3 linked regions of the Homo sapiens genome follow. The protein of the gene in region 2 purifies or fractionates together with the protein of the main gene of each other region. This does not show direct contact. Each region holds a gene or a part of one and is shown on either strand. Other genes may lie near its edges.

What was found.
Region 1: the proteins of SKAP1 (region 2) and URI1 purify together in Homo sapiens (affinity purification with mass spectrometry; 4 studies listed by BioGRID and IntAct, with this or other methods). This does not show direct contact.
Region 3: the proteins of SKAP1 (region 2) and MYO9A purify together in Homo sapiens (affinity purification with mass spectrometry; 3 studies listed by BioGRID and IntAct, with this or other methods). This does not show direct contact.

What each region holds. Positions count from the first base shown.
Region 1 is NC_000019.10:30,007,147-30,015,667, reverse strand, and holds part of URI1 (unconventional prefoldin RPB5 interactor 1), read right to left. Parts: intron 8,199-8,521; coding exon 8,030-8,198; intron 6,664-8,029; coding exon 6,315-6,663; intron 4,575-6,314; coding exon 4,432-4,574; intron 3,384-4,431; coding exon 3,137-3,383; intron 782-3,136; coding exon 599-781; 3' UTR 133-598; coding exon of another isoform or gene 76-132; 3' UTR 1-75. UniProt on the Homo sapiens protein: Involved in gene transcription regulation. Acts as a transcriptional repressor in concert with the corepressor UXT to regulate androgen receptor (AR) transcription.
Region 2 is NC_000017.11:48,426,224-48,434,758, forward strand, and holds the start of SKAP1 (src kinase-associated phosphoprotein 1), read right to left. Parts: upstream 3,992-8,535; 5' UTR 3,898-3,991; coding exon 3,852-3,897; intron 3,710-3,851; exon of another isoform or gene 3,387-3,709; coding exon of another isoform or gene 3,363-3,386; intron 1-3,362. UniProt on the Homo sapiens protein: Positively regulates T-cell receptor signaling by enhancing the MAP kinase pathway. Required for optimal conjugation between T-cells and antigen-presenting cells by promoting the clustering of integrin ITGAL on the surface of T-cells.
Region 3 is NC_000015.10:71,897,722-71,906,242, reverse strand, and holds part of MYO9A (unconventional myosin-IXa), read left to right. Parts: intron 1-1,236; coding exon 1,237-1,317; intron 1,318-2,203; coding exon 2,204-2,314; intron 2,315-3,179; coding exon 3,180-3,302; intron 3,303-4,902; coding exon 4,903-5,052; intron 5,053-6,236; coding exon 6,237-6,556; intron 6,557-7,210; coding exon 7,211-8,521. UniProt on the Homo sapiens protein: Myosins are actin-based motor molecules with ATPase activity. Unconventional myosins serve in intracellular movements. Regulates Rho by stimulating it's GTPase activity in neurons.

The DNA.
Region 1 (8,521 bases), on a different chromosome or scaffold from region 2:
AGTTTTACAAAATATCTTTCCAAAGAAATTTTCCCATAGAGTACAATTAATTCATGTAGCTTTCTTCCTTAAAGATTACAGTATGACATTCAGAGGGGCGAGGTTTCTTGAATAGCCAACTAGCCGCAAAACCTACAAGAGAAGTAGATTTTTTTAAAGTGCCTTTAAAATGTGAAAGCAAGTAATGTAATTGTTGAATCTATTTGAAATTTTAAAATTTTCTTTAAAATGGTCCATATGGTATGCACAATATCACAGCTGGCACAAAACTGCCTGTATTTAGTTTGAAACACAAAAACAATGCATATGAACAGTATTCTTTGAAAAGTAATTCAAAATGCTGCCACTGCATCATAAAGGCAAACTTAGATAAGAGTGTTGACAGTATTCAGAGAATTCACAAAACAAGCTGATATTAAAGTATTCAGACAGTTACCTTGATTTTTTTCAAATACCACGGGTAAGGGTAAAAGAACTTGTTGCCAAAGTAACTCAGGATACCTTATTTCAAACTACATGTAACCTATTTTGCTATAGATACTCTAAACAAATGAACAACTAGGTTTTAGGATGTAAATTCCCATTTCCTAGACAGGGCCTAGTCTTTCTGTTGCAATCTGGCAGCTTTAAACTTTGAAACCCTCTTTCCAGTTTCTTCAGATGCTTCCAACAGAACTTCCTTTCGTTCTGGAATAGTGGGTAGTGCGGGATGAGCAATGGCTGGGGGTGGTGTTAAGGAAGGTGATACAAATTCTTTTTCTATAACAGTTCCAGAAAAAGCCTAGAAAACAAAAGTCAGGTTATGGTAATAAAATGCAAATAAGACACCCACAAAATCTTCCCATTCACTCATTTGGCAATTCTTTTCATTAAAAGTAAATTCACGAGATTTTTGGCTAGACAACACTACTACACCAAAATACTAATTGTTCAGAGAAACCAACACCATTAAGTTTTAATTTCACCACCAAACAGAAGTAATTTTTACAGTATACATGCAAGAAAACAAAATGTAAAATGTAAATTTTATCTGGGAAAAAAAAGAAATGGATAAATAAAAGGTCTTCAAACTTTCATACATTCCATTCATGTCCAGCCCATGCTGTGAAAAATAATGTATTAAAATAAAAATGCTATTAGGGTGTCAAACTCTGACTTTTGTACATCAGTTGATGAATGAGCTATCCTATGATGGCCTTGCTGCCTGCTAGCCAATAGCTTAGTTTCACCAGTACTGACATTTCTAACTGATATCTCTTTGGTGGTGTTTATGCAATTATTTAAATATTTTACTGCATATTGCCTCAATTTTAAAAGATCAGTGGAAGTTGAAAAATAAAAGTGCTGATACTAGTAGGAATAAGTACAGGTTTCAAAATTTTAATATAATTAACTCAATGACAGAAATCAGAAGTTCCACAAAAAAAGAAATGACTCAATTTCACCTGGATGTTTGCTGCATTTAATCTGGTCAACTATATGTTCAACTGGAACAGAATTAAAGAATGTGCATAAATTGCTGGAAATATCTGTACATGTCGTTTTATACAAAAATAGGTAAGACACAAGGAGTTAATTTTTTTTTTTTTTTTAAGATTGCTGGTATTTAGAACCTCCATCCTTCCCTCTACAAATGAAAATTTGACAGGTGAACTTTAATGTACATTTTGTTCTCCTCTGTCTACCAAGTGCTCAAAATTAGTTAAAACAACGTAACACCTAAATAATTTAAAAAGCCACCTTCTTCTACCTTGCCCCACCACTGAAACAAAAACAAAGAAAGCCATCTCTCTCCTACATTATTTTTGGAGTTCAACTGGTAAAAGCAGCTTAAAGCTTACTTTCCTAAAAACTCCACTTTATCACGATGAGCATAGAGCCTTCTTCTCCTTCTTCTATTTAAAATGCCTTTGAAAAAGAGGTATTTTAGCATTTAAAAAGATACTGAAAAGGATATCTTCCAAAGTACTTACCATAATCATGAACTATTTCTTTGATGTTAAAAAATGTATAGCAACTACTATTAAACATTTCCATACAAAATGCAAAGCTACTAAGGGTGAAATAAAAAATAGGTTCCACACTCTAGCTGTACCATGATACACTAAGTCCTTACAAAAAACTAATTTTCAAACATTTATCAGCAATTACCTGATAACATCCATTACCTGTTTTCTAACAGTATGGAAGACTATCAAATAAGGTAAGATACTTTCCAGGTCACCTAAGATCATTATACTAAGAAGAGGGGAAGAAAACATTCTAGTCATATGTACTGTCCCTAAATGCTACCAATCTCCATCCCCAATTACCATTTAATACACTGAGTATAATACCATTTAGTAAAAGCAATGGAATTTTTAGATAAGGTTATATATATGCATGTATCTTATTGTATATACAAATGTGTACACTGGTTTGATCCAGGCATGGGTTCCCCAATCTTCCTAAATACTTTTTAAATTGAAAACTTCAAATACGCACCAAAACACAAGAATGAAGAAATCAATAGCCTTATATTTCACAGACATCCTTATTTGGGGATTTCCTAACCTCCCCTGCACCACCACCAAAAACTGTAAGAAGTGTGGTGGGTGAAAGTGTATTGAGTGTGCACTATTTTTTCTATGGACAGGGTCTACAGCTTTCATCAGATTATAAAACAATTCCATAATCCCCCAAGAGTTAAGTTTCACTGGTACAAGGTAAAATATTAGACTTTAGGTAATTATCTGCTATGCATGCATTATTTTTCTTTAACTTAGCCAAGGTATTTAAAAGAGAATAATGTAATCTGCTCCTTACACTATCAGAAAATGACCTACTGGTAATTTATTTAAAATAAACTGCGAAATAATTTCCTAGCTACAAATGTAATACATAATGCCAAGTAAGACATTTTAAATTTCCCATTTTGCTGAAATAGAACGTTAAGACAAGTAATGTGTTTATCAAAAAATAAACTATTTGATTATCACAATATTTGTACTGTTTGTGACTATTAATTTTTTATTAATTAGTACCAAGAAAGTATAAAACCTAGAATTAATTTAATCTTATGACTTTTCAGATTAAATAGCTAAAACTGGTCAAAGATACTATATGAAATAAAGAATTAAAAGATACACACACACACCTCAGGTGTTACTGATAAGGGCAAAAGTTTCTTTTGATTTTCTTGTGGTTCCTCTTCCAAAATGCTCTCACTGGTGTCACTGCAAGTGGCTTCTTCGCAGCTGATACTCCTCAAAACTCCCCGCCTATCATCAAATTCAGCAGCACTGCTTTCACTAGTGTCGCTACACACACTATTCTCTCTACTTCGAGACTTCAGGATGGATTTGCGAGGGACATATTCTCCATTCACAACATCAACAAAGGCTCTGTGATATTCAAAACACATATGCATTCACTATACGTAACTCATAAAACTGAGAACAACTTTTTGAAAATTTCCTTGAATCTATTCTAGAAATTAATCTGAAAATTTTTATTACAATCTTATATCTAAAATAGTCACAATCACAATAATTTTATAGCCTCAAATGGTATCTTCATACTATTTTGAAAGCTATTTCTCTGGCCTAATAATAAAACACAGCATGTTATTTATTTATTTTATTATACTTTAAGTTCTAGGGTACATGTGCACAACGTGCAGGTTTGTTACATATGTATACATGTGCCATGTTGGTGTGCTGCACCCATTAACTCATCATTTACATTAGGTGTATCTCCTAATGCTATCCTTCCCCCCTCCCCCCACCCCATGACAGACCCCGGTGTGTGGTGTTCCCCACCCTGTGTCCAAGTGTTCTCATTGTTCAATTCCCACCTATGAGTGAGAACAAAAACACAGCATGTTATTTTTAAGCATGTCCTAGGTGGCAATAGCATGGTTTGCCAAAATTCTACATAAAGTTTTAGACCCACGTATACATTTAGCAATTTTCACTGATTTATAAATAAGGGTCATAAAAACAGTAGGTATTTTCAAGTGATAGTTTTCTCAACAAACAATTCCAAAAAAAAGGAAAAAAAAAAAAAACCTGCAACAGTATAATTTCTACTCTGAAAAGGTAAACTGCATGCCAAGCATGTTACGGCTGTGGTAGAAACGTAGGGACCTAGCCCACTGGAAACAAAAATGCTTTCTGAAGATACAAGATTTTCTGACTAGACCATTTGGAAATGTTTCAAAAGCACTGGTGAAGAGGAGAAAGTGAAAAAAAAAAAAAATCCTCCATTCCCACTGCTCTGGACTGGGAAGCTACAGCCGGTCAGCCTATCAGATCCTAAGTTAACTCCTCAGAACACTTCACTTTTCAGTGAGGGTCTTCTGTGTTACAGTCAACTTTCTCCAGTAAAGGTTCAGTGGCAGAAAGAGAGGCAAGCCCAGCAGACTGCCCTGCAGCTGTGAGCGCCTCCCACCTGTAAATGTCTGCAGGCGTCCTGATGGTCGGCAGCTCCTGGGCAGAGTGGCCACTGCCAGTGCTGTTCTTTCGTTTACGTTTGGCTTCTTCTTTCTTTTCACTGAATTTTAAAGTGGTATTCTTTCCAGTATTTATTCGGACCTAAAATTTCAGAGCAAGAAATTAAGAATCTTTTGACAAATTAAATCAAAGTGAAACCAAAACAAATAAACTCTATAACTAAAAAAATAATAGTAAGAGAGGCAGCTGAAATTTTCTGATGCTGAAATGATGTGCATTATCAGATGGAATTTTTTAAAAAGTCCTTATCTCATAGATCTATGACATCTAAAGAAAATCTTCTTTATTAACAAATCCTAGTCTTCAGTGTCTTTATTATTGTAGAGAAAGCAAAATACATTTGAACTAAATGCTAGATTTCTTATAAACTTCCCATCACCCCATTCCTTTGATATAAGTGTTTGGCTTGAATTATGTATTTCAAAAGAAAGAGTATAAACAAAAATTCAGTAAGAATACAACCTTTAAGTCATAAAAGTACTATTAAATAATGCCTATTTAGAATTTTTAAAACATCTCTAATTTTTAGAAATTGAAGGAGTAAAAAAATAAAAACCAAGCCTGTTCAGGGTTCACATGGGGTTAACATGTTATTTTTCTATCCCTAGTCAGCACTTAGAGCATACTTTCCACAATAATGACCACTATTACCTGTAACGTTCCTGCAAATAATATTTGTTCTTTCTGTTTTATCTAAATGAAAACAGGAAAAAAGTAAAAGCCTGGCAAAAGATTAAAAAGCGACCTTTTTTTCTGGCTAATCATCTCAGTCAACTTTTCCCGAAGAATCAGGGGAAGACCCCTTCAGTCTGACATATTAGAATATAAAAACACAAACAATTATTTCACTTCATATAGGAGCAGGAATAACTTTAGGAAGCTAAGAAATATCAAATATGTTTTAAACATATTTCACTAAATAATAATCACACACACTTAAGAATGATACCACAGACCCTTAACTGATACAGGCAATCGGGATATTGTGTAGAAAGGGCACTCAGAGGCGAAAGAGTTCCTGTTTTGTTACCAACCAGATCTATGTCTTCTAGGCCTTAAATTTCCCTGAGAAAGACGAATTAGACGAATTCCCAGTGTCCCCTTAGAGCAGTACATGGAGCAGAGAGAGGGCAAAGATGGACTTAAGGCAGCCTATCCTTCCTTCAATCAGAGCCAAGCTGCTTTGATCTATTTTAAATACTGGGATTCTACAGTAAGTATGGAGGGAACAAAAGGCTTTTCATACTAGAGAAAAGCTTTAAAACTCTGTATTAGAAAATCTCCAGTCACCCCCAGCTCTAAAATGCCAAAATTCTAAGTCATGATTATCCACAGATGTTTATATTTACTTTGTCAGAAAAGAAACTAATTTTTACTTCCTCCTACATTTTCCCTTTGTGCCTATGAAGTATTCATTTTATGTCCATAGAAAACAACCTGGCATAATTAAAAATTTAACTAATGCAGTCACTTTCAACATCCTAAGCACACCAAAATGTCCACAATATAATTAACTCCAGGATTCTTAAGAAAACTCTCTGAATGAAGGACAGGTGAAGTTACAGTAGTTGCCACTCAAATCTGATCCCCTTCCAGACCCCAAACAATGCATTGTTTCAGAGAACAATGGACCAATACCAGCTAACTAAATTTTTTTTCCCTTTTTCTTCTTAAATTGGTCAGAACAAGAGGCAAAAGATGATTTTCCTGTCTGGCACTATCCACAATGATAATGATTGTTAATATTGCTCTTCTAAAAAATATCATAATGCTTAATGTTCAAATTATATGCAAAATTAGTAAAGTTAAAAGTATACAAACCCTCTTAGGCTCAACAGTATGTGAAAAATATATTGTTGGTATAGAATTATCTCCAACCCCTAAAGCCTCATGGTCGTTATCACCATCATCGTCGTCAATGTTGTCGTCGTCGTCGTCATCATCATCATCATCATCATCATCACTGTGGTAAGAACTGGAACCATTCACTGAACAGTTCAACTGACTATTCACTTGACCACTGAATGGTTCTGAACTTGCAACATCCTTATGACAAGGAGTATGAGAGTCTGTTACTTGATGCATCGCATTCACATTTGTGTTACGATCTTCCTTTTCCTCTTCAGAAGATGTCGTATCTTCTCCATTTGCAATCACAGTATCAGGCTTACTAGCAAGGAAGAAAATTAACAAGATCAAACAAACATACTAGAATTTTACATTATTTAAATTTCCAGTTAGTTTCCATGGGTAAATACTAAGATCTTGAATAAAGTATTTTTAAAACTAGAATTCTAAGTTCAAAAACAAAAAAATGTTTTGAAATAAATTAACAAAAAACAGTTCCTATGCTGCTTCTATATATTGAGGTTATTCAGACATAAGTAGAATATAGAAGATAATTTTTTTATCTTTGCAAGAAAGATATTGGCCATATGCAATATAAATATAGTATCAATAATAATAAAGTTGTAAGAAATTCAGAGAACATTTATCTCTAAAGACCAGAAATTGAAACCACATAATACACACTTATTTTCTACTCCTATACTCAGAATATTTTACAATGAGCATGTATTATTGTAATTTTTAAAAATAAAGGATTTATACATATGCACACGAATATATCTATATGCATGAGTGAACATTTATCATACTTGATTCTATAAAAGATGTGAGGACCTTACAAAAATAACAAAATTGAAAATGCAACAGAACTGAAATAACATCATACAAAAAATAGAAAGAGAATCATGACCAAGAAAAATCACAAGATCCAAAACTGGTTTTAAAAAATGAATAGTATTAGTTAATCAAAAAGACCTAAGAATTTATAGGTGAAACACTAGGAAAAAGAAACTTTTATGCTTCCTGCCCTATTTTTCACAGAAACTAATTATTGCATATGGTACATCATTTAAGCAAAATAATATAGAACTTCTCGAGTAGCAGATTTCATTTAGCATTTTAACAATTCTAAGTGTGTGCTAATGTGTATTTCAAACAGCAATTTCGTAAAGTTTCTCATACATATAGCTATCTGACCAGATTACAAATTACCTGCTCCAAAGTTTATAAAAGGAAAGCAAGAATAAACATTTTACTGTATCAAATTTAAATTCAAAGTGTATTTTTGTTTTTCACAACACATTCAAAGATAGAGCACTATCCTGGGTGTGGCATAAAAATACTTCATTTAAAATTTAACATTATATATATTAAATCCATGATTATTAAAAGTCAACTATCTGGTATAATTAATTATATAAAATAGGCCATAATAAAAAATGAAGATGTTGATCTTAAGTATTTAAGTACATGTACATGCATGGGAATATGCACAAACACACAATCCTATAAGAAAATATTCCAGAGAATTAATGTTCATCTTGAGGTGAAAGGATTATTGATAATATATTATGCTTCCCTGCATTTTCTTCAATGAACACATATTATTTTATTAATGAAGAAAAAGATTAATGAGGAAATGTGTATAGAAACAAATTATCTTGGAAAGATAATTTGTCATCAAGTACCTATCAAGTTCACCCAGCAATTCTTCCTGTCTCTCTAGTTCTTCAAGTCGAGCCCACAGTTCTTTATCAGCTAGCAAATCCTTGGATTTCACATCATTTGCAATATCTGCTTCAAAAATATCTGAAGTTTTTGGTTTGGAATGCGGTTTATGAGCAATTCGGTGTTTTGCTATTTAGAAAAAGGAAAAGACGTGGCTGTTAATAGCCAACATAAAAAAGGCACAAACCCAGACTTAATGAGACTTTCTTTTGGGGCAAGGGAAATATTGAAACAGAGGGGTCACAATTTTTAAGCCAAACAGAACTCCAAGGATGAATGTCTCTTACAGCCTTGCTACTCAAAGTGTGGTCCATGGATCAACAGCACTGGCGTCCTTGGGGAACACTTCAGAAGTGTAAGCTCTAAGGACACCCTAGACCCACTGAATCAGAATCTGTATTTCAACAAGAGCCCCAGAGAACCTGCATACACATTCAAGGTTGTGAGAAGAG
Region 2 (8,535 bases):
AAGTTTAAAAATAAATAACTATAGGCATATCAGAATCAGCATTAACACAGCAATTGCTACTACATGCAGCCAGGTTGTTAATGTTATTTTGGCTTAAATCCATATTCTGGGCAGGATTTAGTACCATGTAGGCAGTTGGGACCTATCAGCTACCAGGGTAATGTCAGTAGGCCCCATTCCATCACACAGGACAAACTACGAACCAAAGAAATATCTATTCCACCTCCTTCATACTTGTCTCTTTTGCTTCTGACTTCAAAAGCAGGGCTAGAAAGACCAGGAAGAAGAGACTGATTATGTTTATATCTGTGGAGCAAAGATTATGCAAACTGCCAGCACTTCATTGTTTTTGTTTTCGGTGTGGTTATCACAGAACAAAAACAAAAAGATAACTTCTACATCTGAAGCCCCATTATTTGAAAACAGACCTGAATATTTCCTCCTCTTTCAATAAAGCAGAAAGCACCCTCCATTTTACTTATCTATGAGGTATTTATTTGTTGATAGGGGACTAGTTACTATTTCTATATGAGAGCTTGACAGAGTCTATCTAAAGAAGCTATTTCCTGAGTTACTCTAGAAACCTCACACTGTTTTGATATTTGCCAAAAATCCAAGATAGCGTGTTTTTTTTTTTTAATTTCTCCACCTTCCATACCCCTCAGGGCTAAAAAGAGAAAAACATGATCACAAGCATAGTAAATGGTCCGTTAGCACTCTGACCTCTCTGAGTTTCTATTTGTCTTTTGTTCCTTTTTCTTTTAAATACCCTTACTGTTTATTTTTTCCTGTTTACAGAAGTAATGCATGGTCATTGTCACAATTCAAACAACACAAAGATGTATGAAATAAAAATTAATAACCTCCCCTCCTCCAAACTCTCAGTCTTCTCTCAAGGAAGCCAATGTTAACAGTCTGGTATATATTCTTTTTTACTTATTCCTAGGCTTACACAAATATTTATAACATATGTGGCTTTTCTTGTTTTGTCTTTTGGTTTTCAAGCAAAAATGGGATATTACATGTACTATCATGCATTTTGCCTTTTAGTCTTAAAAATATGCCATGGACACTTTCCAAGCCTATATATAGATCCACAGAATACTCTTTTAGTGGCTGTGAAGTATTCCATGAGACAAATGTCCCATAATTCATTCAACCATCACCCTGAGTCTCCCAACTTATTAACATTTAGCATAGATCTTCGTGCATATACTACTTCATGACCTTTCACTTCAGTGACAGATTTTTAGAAGTGAGGTTTCTAGGTCGAGTGAAACATTTCCAAGTGTCTCAAATTTTATATTTAAACAAAATTAATTTTAGGCCTTGGGAATTTCTGTTCTCTTCATTATGCAAAATTTTGTTATCTACCTTTCACAATGCTTTACATATTTTATTCTTAAAAGCACACACATTATGTCAAAAAATGCCCCTGTCATTTATGCTTGTGTAGTTATAAATAAATAAATGCTTAAGTTATGGCTGTGATGTCCAGTGTTAAATCACTGTGCAAATGCTTATGCCTTGGTTTATGAAAGTAGTAATTCATTGTGGAAACCCCACCCCCACAGCCATGTGGCAGCACTAGAGTTGCAGCCCTCACATCCTGTGACTCCCTCCCACAGAGTGACTATATAGAGATCAGGACCTCCATTTTTTCTAATTGTCAACAGTTAACCTTAAAAAGTGTGTGGTGGGGGAGACAAATAGCAACAAACAACAAATTGATGGCCATTTTGGGTTTCTAATATGGACAGATTATTTGTAACACAATGAATAATCCTCCTGGTCTACACCAGCGACTGTGTTCCAAAAGAAATAAAACTTGTAACCAATATATTGCTATTATTATTACAGGAACCTTTAAAAAACATATCTTCAAACATTTTTCAATAGAATTACTGGATGAATCACACTTTACATTTTTTTCTCTACTTCAGATTCAAGTTCTAATTGCAAACTTAAAAAAAAAAGCCTTAAAGAAATACATTAACCAACGAAGCTCCTTATAATTTGGTTTCAGACTCCTCCATATATTTTAAAGACCTGAGCACCAACAGAGATTGTTAAGATACAGCAAGCTTGATACAGAAGTATGCGACATGCAATTAATCTCCATTCATACCCCGCTCTACTTGTCAGCAAACAAAGGTTCTGCTTTAGAAGGAGATCTGAAGACTTCAATTAAAAACAGTCAGCTAACAAGAAAATAATCTAAGCTAAAGGAAGGTGGCAGGTGCAGAAATGAGTTGTTTACCAAAGTGTCAGTTTTGAACAATGAAGAACTGCACATCAAAAATGCTGAAGGAATGGATTTCATTGCAAGCCTCTGAAAATAAAAAGGAATTTTCTACCAAGCCTAGACACAAAACTGAAGTATAGTTTAATAAGCTTATAAAATAGGTTTCCTCTCATCAAATGACAGATACCAATAAAAAGAATCAGTTTATATATTTCAATGCAAGGGCAGAGTTAAACTTTTTGCCACAGTCCCTTCTTTCCTAGAAACCAAAGACAATTACAGCCTTCCTTCACAAGCCTAATATTAAACCAACAACAGAGGGAAAGGCTGGATTGTTTCTTCTTAGACACCCAGATAATTCTCTTTTACCCTGCAAATAGTTTTCTACCCCCAAAATTTAGATTTATTCTGATCGTAAGTAAAACGGATTTTGGAAACCTCACCTCAAAAGAAATATCTAGCTGACAGCTTTTACATAGAAGCAATCCAGAATGGAAATAGTGCTACAGACAGAGACCAAAAGGACTTGCCAAATATTTGATTAGGAGGCATTTATACCGAGATAACAAGGTAATGGAGATATAAAACCAATTAAATTGAGAGAAACTGAAAAAAAATACTGCTTGCCAAAAATATGACCTGCCCAAAGCAGGCCGTCTGTTAAATATGTGTCAACTATGTCAACTTAGATGCCAAAAGGCTTAATTCTGAATAGTTTCCTCCTGGGAGCCTTATGCGACTGCAGATTCCAGGCCTCTGTCCTCCCTGGAAGGTTAGTTACAGGAAAGCAAGTAAAAGTGACTTCCACCACGAAACCCAGCAGATGAAACTGCCCGTTAGCAACGTCTCTTTGTGACATCTCTTTGGAGTGTTGGCAGTGTGTGTTGAGTGTTGACGGGGATGGCCGGAACTCTTTAAACCACCGCTTAGACACTGTAGTTGGAAGGTGAACACACCACAATGGGAGTTGGAAGGTGAACACACCACAATGGGGGCACTTCTAGAAAAGGAGGAAATCCCATACTGAGAATGAGCCTGCCTTGGGGTGGGTGAGACCCCTAGACGTCTGCAGGGTGATAAAGGGAGGGCTGGGGTTTTCGCACTGACAAAAACTCACGTCAACCACCTGGCCTTGGCCCATGGGGATCCCATGAGCCCCTCGCAGCCCCCTGGAGAGCCTCGGGGACCTCTAAGCAGGAAGGTTTGGGGTCTTCTGTGAGAGGTGAGGAAGTCGTGGCTGGGGAAGGAGGGGGACGGGAAACCCTACAGATGTAGGGCAGTCCTTTGGAGAAAGGGACAGGTCGGAGACCAGGCAAGGTGGCATGGGGGACCAAGAACCTGGCCTGAGGACTTTAGAAGCCGGGGAGGTGAAGTGGAGGCGTGGAGGTGCCTCAAGGCAAAAGAAGATGTGGGACTCCAGGGAGTGAAAGGGGCCCTGAGGTGAGAGGATGGAAAGCTGGCTCTAGGGAGTTGAGGGCTCTAGAAGCCTTAAGGTTCTAGAAGGAGGTGAGTGACGAAGCCGTAAAGAAAGCCTGGCCGTGGGAGGCCTGGTGTCCCCTTTCGGCCTTCGGCTCAGCACTGGAGGGGGCCTGCGCCAGGGCGTTACCTTCCAGGAGCCAACGGATCTCCTCAGGGAGGGCGGCGGCCTGCATTTGGCTGGGCGGGAGAGAGGCGGGACGGGGCGCGGGCCCTGGTCGGGAGGCGGACGGGCTGGAAGGCGACCCGGCTGCACCGCGAGGCACCTGTACCTCAGCCGCGGTCGCCGCCCGCCCAGCCCGGCCGCGGGGCGGGGCCGTGGGTCCCCGGGCGCGTCAGGAAGTGGCGCGGGCGGCAGGCGGGGACCGGAACGGGGCGCGGGGCGTGGGTGCACGTGGCGCTCACGCCGGAGCCCCACGGTAGAAGGATTGGGGGTGCCGGAAGCACCGCACCGTGCGAGGCCAAAGGTGCGCCCCTCCAGCACCCACCAAAACAAAAGACTTCACAAGGCTCAAAGGACCCACGGCTTTGGACACTCCATCCTAAGCACCGAACAGTTGACCTCACGGTGGCAGATTTGAAAGACCACGGGGTGCCTGAAGTAGGGTGCAGGGAGGCAGAATCCAAGGAAGAGATCCCCGTCAAGCATAGCACCCCTCAATTGCCGGTCCAGTTCACATCTCCATCCCCAGAAAAGAGGGCAAAACTTCGCTCTTTGGGAAGCCACAATGTTGAAAGGAAATGATTAATTCCCAATAAGCAATATAAGGACACCAACATTTGGGAGAATCGCGGCAGCGTGGCAGCAAGGGACACAGGAAACCAAACTGTGCTGTTCTCCCTCAGGATGGAAAGGCCCTGAGGAAAGGAAGGGGTAACACAGGGAGAAAGCTGAGGGAGAGGAGAACAGAGCCCTTTCCCTCCAGGAGCTGCGGAAGGGAGGAAAGTGAAGGACAAAATCACACGGTCTCATTCAAGGGACAGTTGGTGTCAGTGTCCTGGTTGTGACATGGTACTGTAATAGTGCCAGATGTTACCCTTGGGGGAAACTGGGTAAAGGTAGACAGAGTTCCTCTATTATTTCTGAAACTCTCTGTGAATCTATAATTCTCAAAATAAAGAGGTTTTTTAAGTACAATAGGTCAACTGCCATGAAAAAAGTATAAAGTGCTATGGTTGATAAAAGAAGGGAGCTGAATACCAGAAAAGGAGGGAAGAGGCCAGGCATTGTGGCTCACACCTGTAATCACAGCACTTTGGGAGGCTGAAGCAGGAGGATCACTTGAGCCCAGGAATCTGAGGTTACAGCCAACTATGATCACCCCAGTGTACCCCAGCCTGGGCAACAGAGCAAGACCCTGTCTCTTAAAAAAGAAAGAAAATAAAAAGAAGTGCCAGTGTGCATGTGAGTGTTTAAAGGTGCATGTGGTGTTTGAGATGGGCTCTGAAAAACACACCAGACTTTGAAGGGGCAGAGGACTTTCCAGGTGGAAGGACCAGAGTAAAGAAAGATGGAAGAGCCCTCACCAGCTTGAGGAATAGTTAGTAGCCCTCTTTTACTGGATGTTGTAGAAAGACTATGGTTGTCAAGATAAACTGCAGCTCTACTGTGAAGGGACTTGAAAGTCAGAATAGGAATGTTGAACTTAATTGAGAGGGCACTGGGGAGCCATTGACAATTTTTGAGATTGGGAATGACCTAACCAGAGCTCCGGGGTGGTATGTGGCCTCACACATCTCCACCTCTGCCTTTTTCCTTCTTTGTAAAAAATGGCATTTCTATTCTCAGACTCAACCTACAGAATATGTAGAAAAGATTAGGAGTGGTGGGAAAAGACACAGGGGGAAGTGGGTAAAATGGTTTTTACAACAGCCATAAGGGGAATAATGATGGACTCAATCTAGCAGACGGGGCAAGAGCAGTAAGAAGAAACCATCGAGAAGGATGAGTGTGATAAAAGTGCCTGCCTCCTTGTACTGTTTCCCATCCAGAGATACAGCCTCAAAGATGAGGGTGTGATCCTTTAAGGAGTACAGTGCATCCTGCCATCTGAAAAGCAGTGGTGCATTGGTTTCAGTGTCACATGACCCACCTACAAGCTGCAGTAAATTGGGGTGAGGGGACAGAGGCTGGCATGAGCCTCTCTGGGGTATCTGGCTCCTGCTCATCCTCCTTCCTGCCCTGAGAAAGTATAGTAATGGGTGGCTGGGCACAGTGGCTCACGCCTATAATCCCAGCACTTTGGGAGGCCAAGGCAGGCGGATCACGAGGTCAGGAGTTTGAGGTCAGCCTGACCAATATAGTGAAACCCCGTCTCTACTAATAATACAAAAATTAGCTGGGCATGGTGGTGCACGCCTGTAATCCCAGCTACTCGGGTGGCTGAGGCAGGAGAATCACATGAACCCGGGGGGCGGAGGTTGCAGTGAGCCGAGATCAGGCCATTGCACTCTAGCCTGGGTGACAGGGCAAGACTCCATCTCAAAAAAAAGAAAGAAAGAAAGAAAGAAAGTATAGCAATGGGCAGACTACCCCTTTCAGGCTTGGGATCAAGTACCAGGTACCCCCATGGCATTTTTACCAACTTCACCACTTCACCTATAAAATTGTAGCTGCTCTAGAATCATTTTGAAGTACTTATGAGGCATACTAAAAAGCAAGGAAAGATACATGGGAACTGTCTGTGCTATCATCTCAATTTTTTTTTGGTAAATCTAAACTGTTACACAAAAAATACAGCAAGGGCAGCAAAGTCTCCCCATATGTCAACCTAAACTTTGCCTTGCTTTCCTTCTTGGCAACAGAAGAAAATTTGATAACCTCCCCCTCTTCTTCAAGGATATGGTGTCACATACTAATATAAGCTACCAGCTAATGAATTGTTTGATAAAGAGCAGTAAACCCAGGTAATTGCACTTCTTTGCAGGCTTCACTGCCTGTCATAGCTTACTTACACCAAAAACTCACAGTGTACGTATTCTATATGCATCCTTCCTTACAAGAATCTCTGGGTTTTAGAGAGACAGGGGTAGAGGGAGGTGCACAGTCGGGTAGTATGTAGTGAGTGACTGGCAGATTCCAATACGGTATTGTCATGTTGCATCAAGGTTCCTCATTGCAGACAGAAATCTGCCTCCACACATGAACGCAGCCCTTCCTTAATCATCTGAGGACCCTGTTTCAGCAGTCAGCCCCACTCCTAATGACATTCTGTTAAATGGACAAATTCCTTTGAAGCCTTGTCCTTTTTTGAAATCCAATTTCGCAGGAAGCCAAATCTGATTGGGGGTAGCCATGGAAACCACATGGAGGAGTCTTAGAGGAGGTGAAGAGAGGCAAGGCAAAACGTGATAGTCACGAGTCCTTTACTGTTCTGTCAGAAATATCAAAGCAATCTGGAGAGGTTGGCAGTAGCTGAGTCCCTGCCTGGGTCCTGTTCTGTGTGGCTGGGTACTATGTGGCTGTCATGGAAGAAAGCAGCCAGCTGTCTCTGCACACAGGCAGGAGGACAGAACAGAATACACAAATCTCAGGTCTGTCTGCCTCCCTTTTCTTCCCGTCCCCCCCAGACCCAATTCCAGCAAGATCTTAGCATCCTCTTCTTAGCTGCCTGCCCCTTAAAGACAAACAACAAAAGAATGACAAGGTTAAAATACAAGGCCCTCACAGATAAGAGGTCCTTTGGAGCAGAGGCCATGAAATTAATCTGGAATTCCTTGTAATTAGATAAGATAAGGGGATCTAAAGAGATGTAGAACAGCCAGGAATGGAGTCCAGCAGCACAACATGCAGAAAACACACCGCCTTGTCCACCGGGACCCTTCACGCACTGTCAGCAGACAGAAGACACAGAAAATAGGGCCCATATTGGCCTCTGAGCTTCTTGGGAATGCTGTCTACATGTTCTCATGCCAGGTGGGCACTCGCTAAATAGGCATCTATGGGATGTCCAGAGGGACCAATCAGGAAGAAACAAAAGCATCTGGCACCCAGAATGGCATGCAGTGGGAACACAACTGCAAGCAAAGCAGGAGCTGGCTGGCACCGCTCTGCCCTGGCTGAAATGGGTCTGGAGAGGAAACTGCAGAGGGCAGGCTCTGAGGCTTTATTCTGAGCTGGTTATTGATCCCTGAATGCTGGGTCATGACATGTGGCGGAGCTGACGTCTGCCCTATGGATGTGCAGCCACTGCCTCTCAGCCTCTCGGTCCCAACCCCATCAACCGGGTTTATTGACTCTTTTATTGACAATGCTGGGGCCTAATGAGGCCAAGAGCTGCACACTTCATTAAGAGATGTGGAAGGAGAGATGATGCATCCTGTCGGTGCCAAGAACCAGGCTCACTGTATGTTTTGCAAGGCTCCAGAAACCAAGCATCATGCCACCTTGAAGGCAGAGGAGATGGACATAAGATGCTAACTTGGGCACGTTACTTCAGTGGCCTAAAAATGAAGTTTCCACGGCTTGCCAGAAGCCTTGTTCTTACCAATTAGCTAACTCTTCAACTTAGGAGGGTCCTGTTATACACACACTCACACAAATACACTTCCAATGGTCTCCCCTTCCAGCTCACACTCCTAGATTCTCTGCCTTAATACATACAACAAAATAAGCAGCTTCTCATATCACATCAGGAAACAATTCCATAAGCAGGTTCTCAGTGAGGTACAGGCTTGGAACAGTATGAGGGACTATATAAAAACTCAAAAGAATCTTCAAAGGGAGCAAATTCAAGATAAGGAACAGACCCAGCACTATACCCAGGGTCCCCCAGCTTACCAGGAGCTGTGCATTAGAATCAGGTACAAAGCTC
Region 3 (8,521 bases), on a different chromosome or scaffold from region 2:
GTAGATCGTAAACTAGGCCATAAAACCTTAACAATTTTGAGTTAAAATCATACAAAATGTTGTATTTATAATAGAATTAAACCAGAAATCAAAGAAAGACATCAATCCCCAAATATTTAGAATATGTAAAAGCGACTTCTAAATAATACATATTTTAGAGGAAGGAAAATTTTATAATATTTTAAATAGAATGAAATATCAAAATTTGTGCAATGCAGCTAAAGCAGTGCTCCAAGGTTAATTTATAGCACTAAATGCTTTTATTAGAAAAGGAGATATGTCTCAATTCAATAATCTAAATTTCTACCTCGATAAACTATAAAAAGAATATATGAAACCCAATACAAGCAGAGAAAAGTAAATAATAAAGATAACAGCAGAATTCAATGAAATGAAAAACAGAAAAATAGACAAAACACTGACACCAAAAGCTGGTTCTTTAAGCAGATCCAAATTTTTTTTTTTTTTTTTTTTTTTTTTGAGACAGAGTCTCACTTTGTTGCGCAGGCTGGAGTGCAGTGGCACCATCTTGGCTTACTGCAACCTCCACCTCCCAGGTTTAAGTAATTCTCATGCCTCAGCCGGGCACCACCACGCCTGGCTAATTTTTGTATTTTTTAGTAGAGATGGGGTTTCACCATGTTGGCCAGGCTGGTCTCAAACTTCTGACCTCAGGTGATCCTGCCCTCCTTGGCCCTCCAAAATGCTGGGATTATAGGCGTGAGCCACCATGCCTGGGCTGAGCAAATCAAAAAGTTGATAAATTTCTAGCCACTAATCAGGAAGAAAGAGAGAATGTGCAAATTACCATTATCAGGAATAAAAAAAGGGATATCATTACATACTTTGTAGACATTTAAAGTAAAGCAAGGGCTTACTACCTTACTGGATACCCTCCTGAATCATTTTAAAAGTTGTAGGATACATGAGTTTGAATAAAATTGTTTGATGAAATGTGAAGAAAAGTGAAAAAAATTCTATATTTGATTGTTCTGAAAACATCTGCAATATTTACTATTTCCAGGCTATCTGCTTTAATATTAAACTACCATCTTTATCCTTAATTATCCATAATTTAACCAGTATGAGAATATACACAATGTGCTTTTCAAAAACCTCTTTCTATGTGTACCTCTACTTTTTGAATGTTTTGCCAGCATGTTGATTATAGTTATAAATTATTTGTTAATAGTTTGGAATGGAAGAGTATGATAATTATATTGCTTTCTGTTGCAGGCATCATTAAGCAAGCTAATGGAAACACTTGGTCAAGCAGAACCATATTTTGTAAAATGCATTCGCTCTAATGCTGAAAAGGTAAAAATGTCCTATAAATGAGAGCACATATCTCAGCTTACTTCAAACTGAGCTTTAAATACTTTTAAGCAGAATAAGTGGAGGGGAAGCACTAACTATAATATTTATAAGGAAAATAGTATGTTATAAACACTTTAAATGGATTTTTCCACACTTCCCTGCCTGTAAGGTGTTTATTTGGATTTGATTTAGCATCACCCAGAATTTGAGAAGCAAATACCTCTTGAAGTCCTGTCAGAAAAGAATTTTCTTTTTTGTTTTTGTTTTTGTTTTGAGGCAGAGTCTCACTGTGTCACCTAGGCTGGAGTGCAGTGGCATGATCTCAGCTCACTGTAATCTCCGCCTCCTGGTTTCAAGCAGTTCTCCTGCCTCAGCCTCCTGAGTAGCTGGGACTACAGGTGTGCACCACCACGCCCGGCTAATTTTTGTATTTTTAGTAGAGACAAGGATTTGCCATGTTGGCCAGGCTGGTCTTGAACTCCTGACCTCAGGTGATCAGCCCACCTTGGCCTCCCAAAGTGCTAGGATTATAGGCGTGAGCCACTACACCCAGTTGTAGGTTATCTTGTTACAGATTTTGTAGTGATTGGACTATGTGGCCTCTGTGGGTGACTACATTCTTTTTGAGCCTTTAAGGTCCTCTCTCTTCACAACCAGAGAAGCCTGGAAGCTTGGTTTCTCTCTTTTCCCTAGGGTTGGGCAGTCAGAACTTTTCTGAAGCTACCAGCTGAGAGGTGAGCTTGCCTTAATATACTTAGTTACTGTATATGTTAACCAGACAACCTCCAGTCAATCTCTAGATACTCAACAGTTAGTCATGCTTATAAACAGATAATTAATTTGGAGATCTACTGTTCTGGGTTAATCTTTTTTCCATTTGCTTTAGCTGCCCTTAAGGTTCAGTGATGTCTTGGTACTTAGACAGCTTCGATACACCGGGATGCTGGAAACAGTTCGAATTCGCCAATCAGGATACAGCTCCAAATATTCTTTCCAGGTTCTGTTTTTATAGTGATATTTACATATTTAGACACATCAAGTAAATGATTCCCACATATCTTGCTTATTATTTCTTTGGGGCTTACTTATTTTCCTTAATTCTTCCTTTCCATTTCACGTTTTGTATACGGAATTGAAAAGGGATAGACAGTATTTACTTTGATTGAATGGCAGCAATCTCATTAAGCTTATTGTAATAGAATCCAGTACTTGGCTATTCTCATTTGCTCGGAATGTTTGCTAATACTAAATTTACTCCTGATATAACAATTCTTTGCACTGACCTCTCCAGTAACTGAAATAGTTCAATGAGAATTATCTAGTGAAAAGATTCTATTTGGTTTTCCCTAAAGTTTTCTCAGCAGGATTTTCTTTCATAGTAAGCTGCCAGCAAGGCTCACAGCTACTCGTATCAGCAATTGCTGCTATGGGTATGGAAACTATATTGAAGCTGTTCAGCAACTGAGCAAGTCTTTGCTGTTACTGGGACGGAAAGCCTCATTCTCAGTGATACCCTGTCCCCATCCTGCCACGTTTGCTTTTTTTTTCCTGATAGAAATTTTAGGGTCTTGTTAAATACCCTTTTCTTTGGTCTTTTATAAAGCTTTCTCAAAAGGGATAATTAGCCTCTGCCTTTTTTTTCTCTCATTCCCTTTTGATGTCATGATATGTAGAACCCAATATCTTTCTCCACCTCCTATGTTTTCCGAATTAACCTTTTATCATATCTTAAATTAACATGCACGTCTTGGTTTCACCCTGTTTAAAAGAAAGAGAAAAGATTAATAGAATGATAATTAGTTTAAGGTCTTGTTTACATACACTGTTTTCTGATTTTACAATATTTTTAAATTATTTTTCAGGATTTTGTGAGCCACTTCCATGTACTTCTTCCCCGAAATATTATTCCATCCAAATTTAACATTCAGGATTTCTTCAGGAAAATAAATCTTAATCCAGATAATTATCAAGTTGGAAAAACCATGGTAAATATAATCTGTATAGCTCTGGTCAAAATTGAGTGCATTTATTTAAAAAATAATAATTTTTGCCTATGAGATTGTTTATTAAAAAGATAGTGAATCAGATATCAGAAGACAATTGGTTAGGCCCAGGTTTTTATTTAATTATGTAGTCAATATTAATCACAGAGCTCTGGCCAGTGCTCTAGTTCTGACTATAATTTTAACTGCCTAAAAATCATCTCTCCATAGATACTCTACTGTAATCTCCAAGCCAGCTTGCCCAAGGTGACCATATCCAGATTCATCTGTTCTTAAATTTATCAAATACTTTCTTTCTCTGTCACCCTTTTTCCAGTTTCTCAGTCTAGAAACCATAATTGTCTTTGGCATACCGTTCACTTTAATCCTTTCACAAAGTTTTAGGGATTTTTTTTCCTTTTACAAAGAGATTCTTACATCGCTTTCTGTTTCTCCATTACTACTGCTTCCATTTTATTTTTATTCCTTATCTCTTCTCATCTACATTGCTTATACAGTGAACAGCTTACTTATCTGATTCTAGTATATTTGTCATTCCATTTAATTTATTCTACTCATAATATTAAAATTATTATCTTAATATACTTAGTTCTTTATGTCTGCCTCCTGCTTGATAATAACCTCCTGATAACCTCCTCATTAAATCCAAACATCTTTCTCTTTTTTGAGAACCTTCATATTGTGGCTTCACATTACTTAATATCTTTTTTATGGAGATTAATTGTCCCGTTGTCTCCTGTGCATGCCTTTATTATTATTTTCAACTCTCTGTGTTACTCAGGTGGGATCTTTTGTCTCTGGCCCTTATTAGTTTACCATCTTCCTCTTCGGGTATATAATATCTACCTGCTCTCAAATGAGAGGTATAATTCCTGTTTCTAAAGGGATATGTCTCCTTCACCTTTGCAGCCTCACAAACCCTAAACATTAGTGGAATGAAGGAGTAAATAAAATAAACTTATTAATAACTTTGGACAGTGAGAAGCTTTTAATGCACGCTGGATTTCAAAAAGACTGTTATCATTGGTTTATTCATTATATGATTCAAGCTTCAAGATCTATGGTTTTCAACTTTTTTCCCCATCCCAACACGCTTGAAAAATATGACTTATTACCAGTAATACATTTACTCATAGCAGTGGTTTCCCCAATGGACTAATGTATCATAATCTCTGGCACTGGAATTTTGATATTCTTGCTCACCTTGTCATTTTTCCCTCCCTTCCTCCCTTCCTTACCTTCCTTTTTTTGTCTTTTTTTTTTTTGGAGACCAGGTCTCTCTATTTTGCCGTAGAACTGGAACTCCTGGGCTTCAGCAAACTTCCTGTTTCAGCCTTCTCAGTAGTTAGGAGTATAGGCATGTAGCACCACACCCAGCTCACCTTCCGTATTCTACTATCTCCATTTCAATTTGAGAATGACTACTTTGGATAAATCTGTAGGAATATTTATCAGTACTTCATTTACATGCCTGCCACTGTGTTTGTTCTTCTCTAAAAGCTTATCACAGAAAGGATGATTCATGAAATAAATTTCTCATTTCTTCTTAAGCTGCATTCCTCATCTTTCTTCCTTTTGGTAGGTCTTTCTAAAGGAGCAGGAACGACAGCACTTACAAGATCTGCTTCACCAAGAGGTGCTCCGCAGAATCATATTGTTGCAGCGATGGTTCAGGGTCTTGCTGTGTAGGCAGCATTTCCTCCATCTGAGACAAGCATCTGTTATTATCCAGGTGAGAAGCAAAGGATTCTTTGCATGAGATTGACTAGTTTATTTGGCCTTTGTTTAGTAACCAGAACCTTTTTACTGTAAAACATTTTCAGTAATAATGTGAACTTCAGAAATGAGAATATGTCGTACCCAATTTTGAAGTGCTCATAACACCCAACAGATTATCTGGCATATAATAGACTATTAATAAATATTGATTCCATTGAATTTAAATTAAATTGAATTTGTAGTTATAATGTCTTGTGAGATCTGTGTAGGGGCTAAGGAGTTACCTAATATTTGTTGACATAGTTGTTTTTATTTAATAGTTTTTGGAGTGATGTTTGAGAGTTGTATATATACCGTTGGTTTTAGACACTCATTTTGGATGATAGGTACCTTATTTTACATTTTATTTGTTTTATTAACTCCCTCATTGATTTATATCATTTCCATAAGATCTTTTCCATTTGTGCAAGAAAATCTTTAGTATCTTCATCTTTGGAATGTGTGTCAGGATTACCTTAAACCCATTAGTGTTATTTAGGAAAATTGTAACAAAAGAATATAATATGTTAAAGTTACTAATAATTTGAAGGACATGAAATCATCCAAAAATTTTAAATTAGGTTCTGTAATTAACTTCTTCAAGGTTATATTATTTAAAATAGCTGTTTTAGCCAAACATATCTGGAAGAGAAAACTTTTTTCTATTTATCTTTTTCAGGTACACTTTCTGCTTTTGTAGAAAACTAGTTTTTTTATTTTTATTTTTTTGAGACAGAGTCTCACTCTGTCACCCAGGCTGGAGTGCAGTGGCGTGAATTCTGCTCACTGCAAGCTCCAGCTCCCAGGTTCACGCCATTCTCCTGCCTCAGCCTCCTGAGTAGCTGGGACTATAGGCACCCACCACCACGCCCAGCTAATTTTTTTTGTATTTTTAGTAGAGACGGGGTTTCACCATGTTAGCCAGGTTGGTCTCTATCTCCTGACCTCATGATCTGCCTGCCTTAGCCTCCAAAAGTGCTGGGATTACAGGCATGAGCCACCGCACCTGGCCAGAAAACTTATTTTTAATCACCAAGAATTTAGCTGCATAGCCACTTAACCTGTAATTATGACATAAGAAATTTATTCTCTTTTTTTCCTGTGAAAATGCAGTGTAAGATATGACAACCAGTTTCTGTTATTTTGTCTTCCCCATAGAGATTCTGGAGGAATTACCTAAATCAGAAGCAAGTCAGAGATGCAGCTGTGCAGAAGGATGCTTTTGTTATGGCTAGTGCAGCTGCTCTTCTCCAAGCTTCCTGGCGTGCTCACTTAGAGAGGCAGCGGTACTTGGAGTTACGGGCTGCAGCCATCGTTATCCAGCAGAAATGGAGAGATTACTATAGGCGCAGGCACATGGCTGCTATTTGCATACAAGCAAGATGGAAAGCCTACAGGGAAAGTAAAAGGTACCAAGAACAAAGGAAAAAAATTATCCTTTTGCAATCAACATGTAGAGGATTCAGAGCAAGACAAAGGTAATCTCTATTACTATAATAATTGCTTTTTTTCTTCTTCCCAAGTACTTTGTTTATACCTCTGCATTAACACTTGTCTAATTTGTATTAGAATTGGTTGTATACAATTTGTCTTTTCCACTATACTGTGATACCGATTTTAACCCACATTGTATTGTCTATAATGGAAGTTAAATAAGGTTTTATTGAATTAAATTGGATTGAAAATCTACATGGTCTGTGATCATAACTGCTAAGAATTAACTTCTACATTAGGCTGAATCTTATAAAATTGGCAATATTCAACTGTTGTTACTTTCAGAAACTTTAATTTCACACTTAAATTAAAATTTCACTTTAATTTCACACTTAAAATTTCACTTTAATTTGAGGTTTACTTTAAAATAAAGGCATTATTAAAATGAGAGCTTTACTTCTGAATTAGTTTACATTTTGACTGAAATGCCTAGGTAGAAGTAATACACTTAATGAAATATCATCTGACTCATGGAAATAGGAAAATTATGAAATGTGCATTCAAGTTAGTTTAAGAAGAACTTAGGTATTATAAAAAGATTTTACAACTCTGCATTTTTTCTTAAATTCTCAGGAAATATGTTATTTTCAGTGGTAACTAAGATATTTCTATAACCCATTTTGTCTGTTTTTATATAGATTTAAAGCTTTAAAAGAACAAAGGCTAAGAGAAACAAAGCCAGAAGTTGGATTGGTGAATATTAAGGGATATGGATCTCTGGAAATTCAGGGTTCAGACCCTTCAGGATGGGAGGATTGTTCTTTTGACAACAGAATAAAAGCCATAGAGGAATGTAAATCTGTAATAGAGAGTAATCGAATTAGCCGTGAAAGTTCAGTGGACTGCTTGAAGGAGTCACCAAACAAGCAGCAGGAGAGAGCCCAAAGCCAGAGTGGTGTGGACTTGCAGGAAGATGTGCTTGTAAGAGAGAGACCCAGATCCTTGGAGGATCTCCATCAGAAAAAAGTAGGCCGGGCTAAGAGAGAAAGTAGGAGAATGAGAGAACTAGAGCAAGCTATATTTAGCTTAGAATTGCTGAAAGTTCGTTCTCTTGGTGGTATTTCTCCTTCAGAGGATCGCAGATGGTCTACAGAATTGGTGCCTGAAGGCCTTCAGTCTCCACGGGGTACACCTGATAGTGAGAGCTCTCAAGGAAGCTTGGAACTTCTGAGCTATGAGGAAAGCCAAAAGAGCAAACTAGAGTCTGTCATTTCAGATGAAGGAGACTTGCAGTTTCCATCACCTAAGATATCCAGCAGTCCAAAATTTGATTCACGGGACAATGCCCTCAGTGCCTCAAATGAGACTAGCAGTGCAGAGCATTTGAAGGATGGAACTATGAAGGAAATGGTGGTCTGCAGTTCTGAGTCTATTACCTGTAAACCACAGCTGAAAGACTCCTTCATTTCAAATAGTCTACCTACTTTTTTTTATATCCCCCAACAAGACCCACTGAAAACAAATTCCCAACTAGACACAAGTATCCAAAGAAACAAACTATTGGAAAATGAAGACACAGCGGGGGAAGCTCTTACTTTGGATATCAACAGGGAAACTAGAAGGTATCACTGCTCAGGAAAAGATCAGATTGTTCCTTCTTTGAATACAGAGTCTTCTAATCCTGTGCTTAAGAAGTTAGAAAAGCTAAACACTGAGAAGGAAGAAAGGCAAAAACAGTTGCAGCAACAGAATGAAAAAGAGATGATGGAACAGATTCGCCAGCAAACAGATATTTTAGAGAAGGAGCGCAAAGCCTTCAAGACAATTGAAAAGCCAAGAATTGGAGAGTGTTTGGTGGCACCATCTTCCTATCAGTCAAAGCAAAGAGTAGAGAGGCCATCCTCTCTCCTCAGCTTAAATACCTCAAATAAGGGAGAACTTAATGTACTGGGGTCCCTATCATTAAAAGATGCAGCTCTTGCCCAAAAAGACAGTTCCTCTGCTCACTT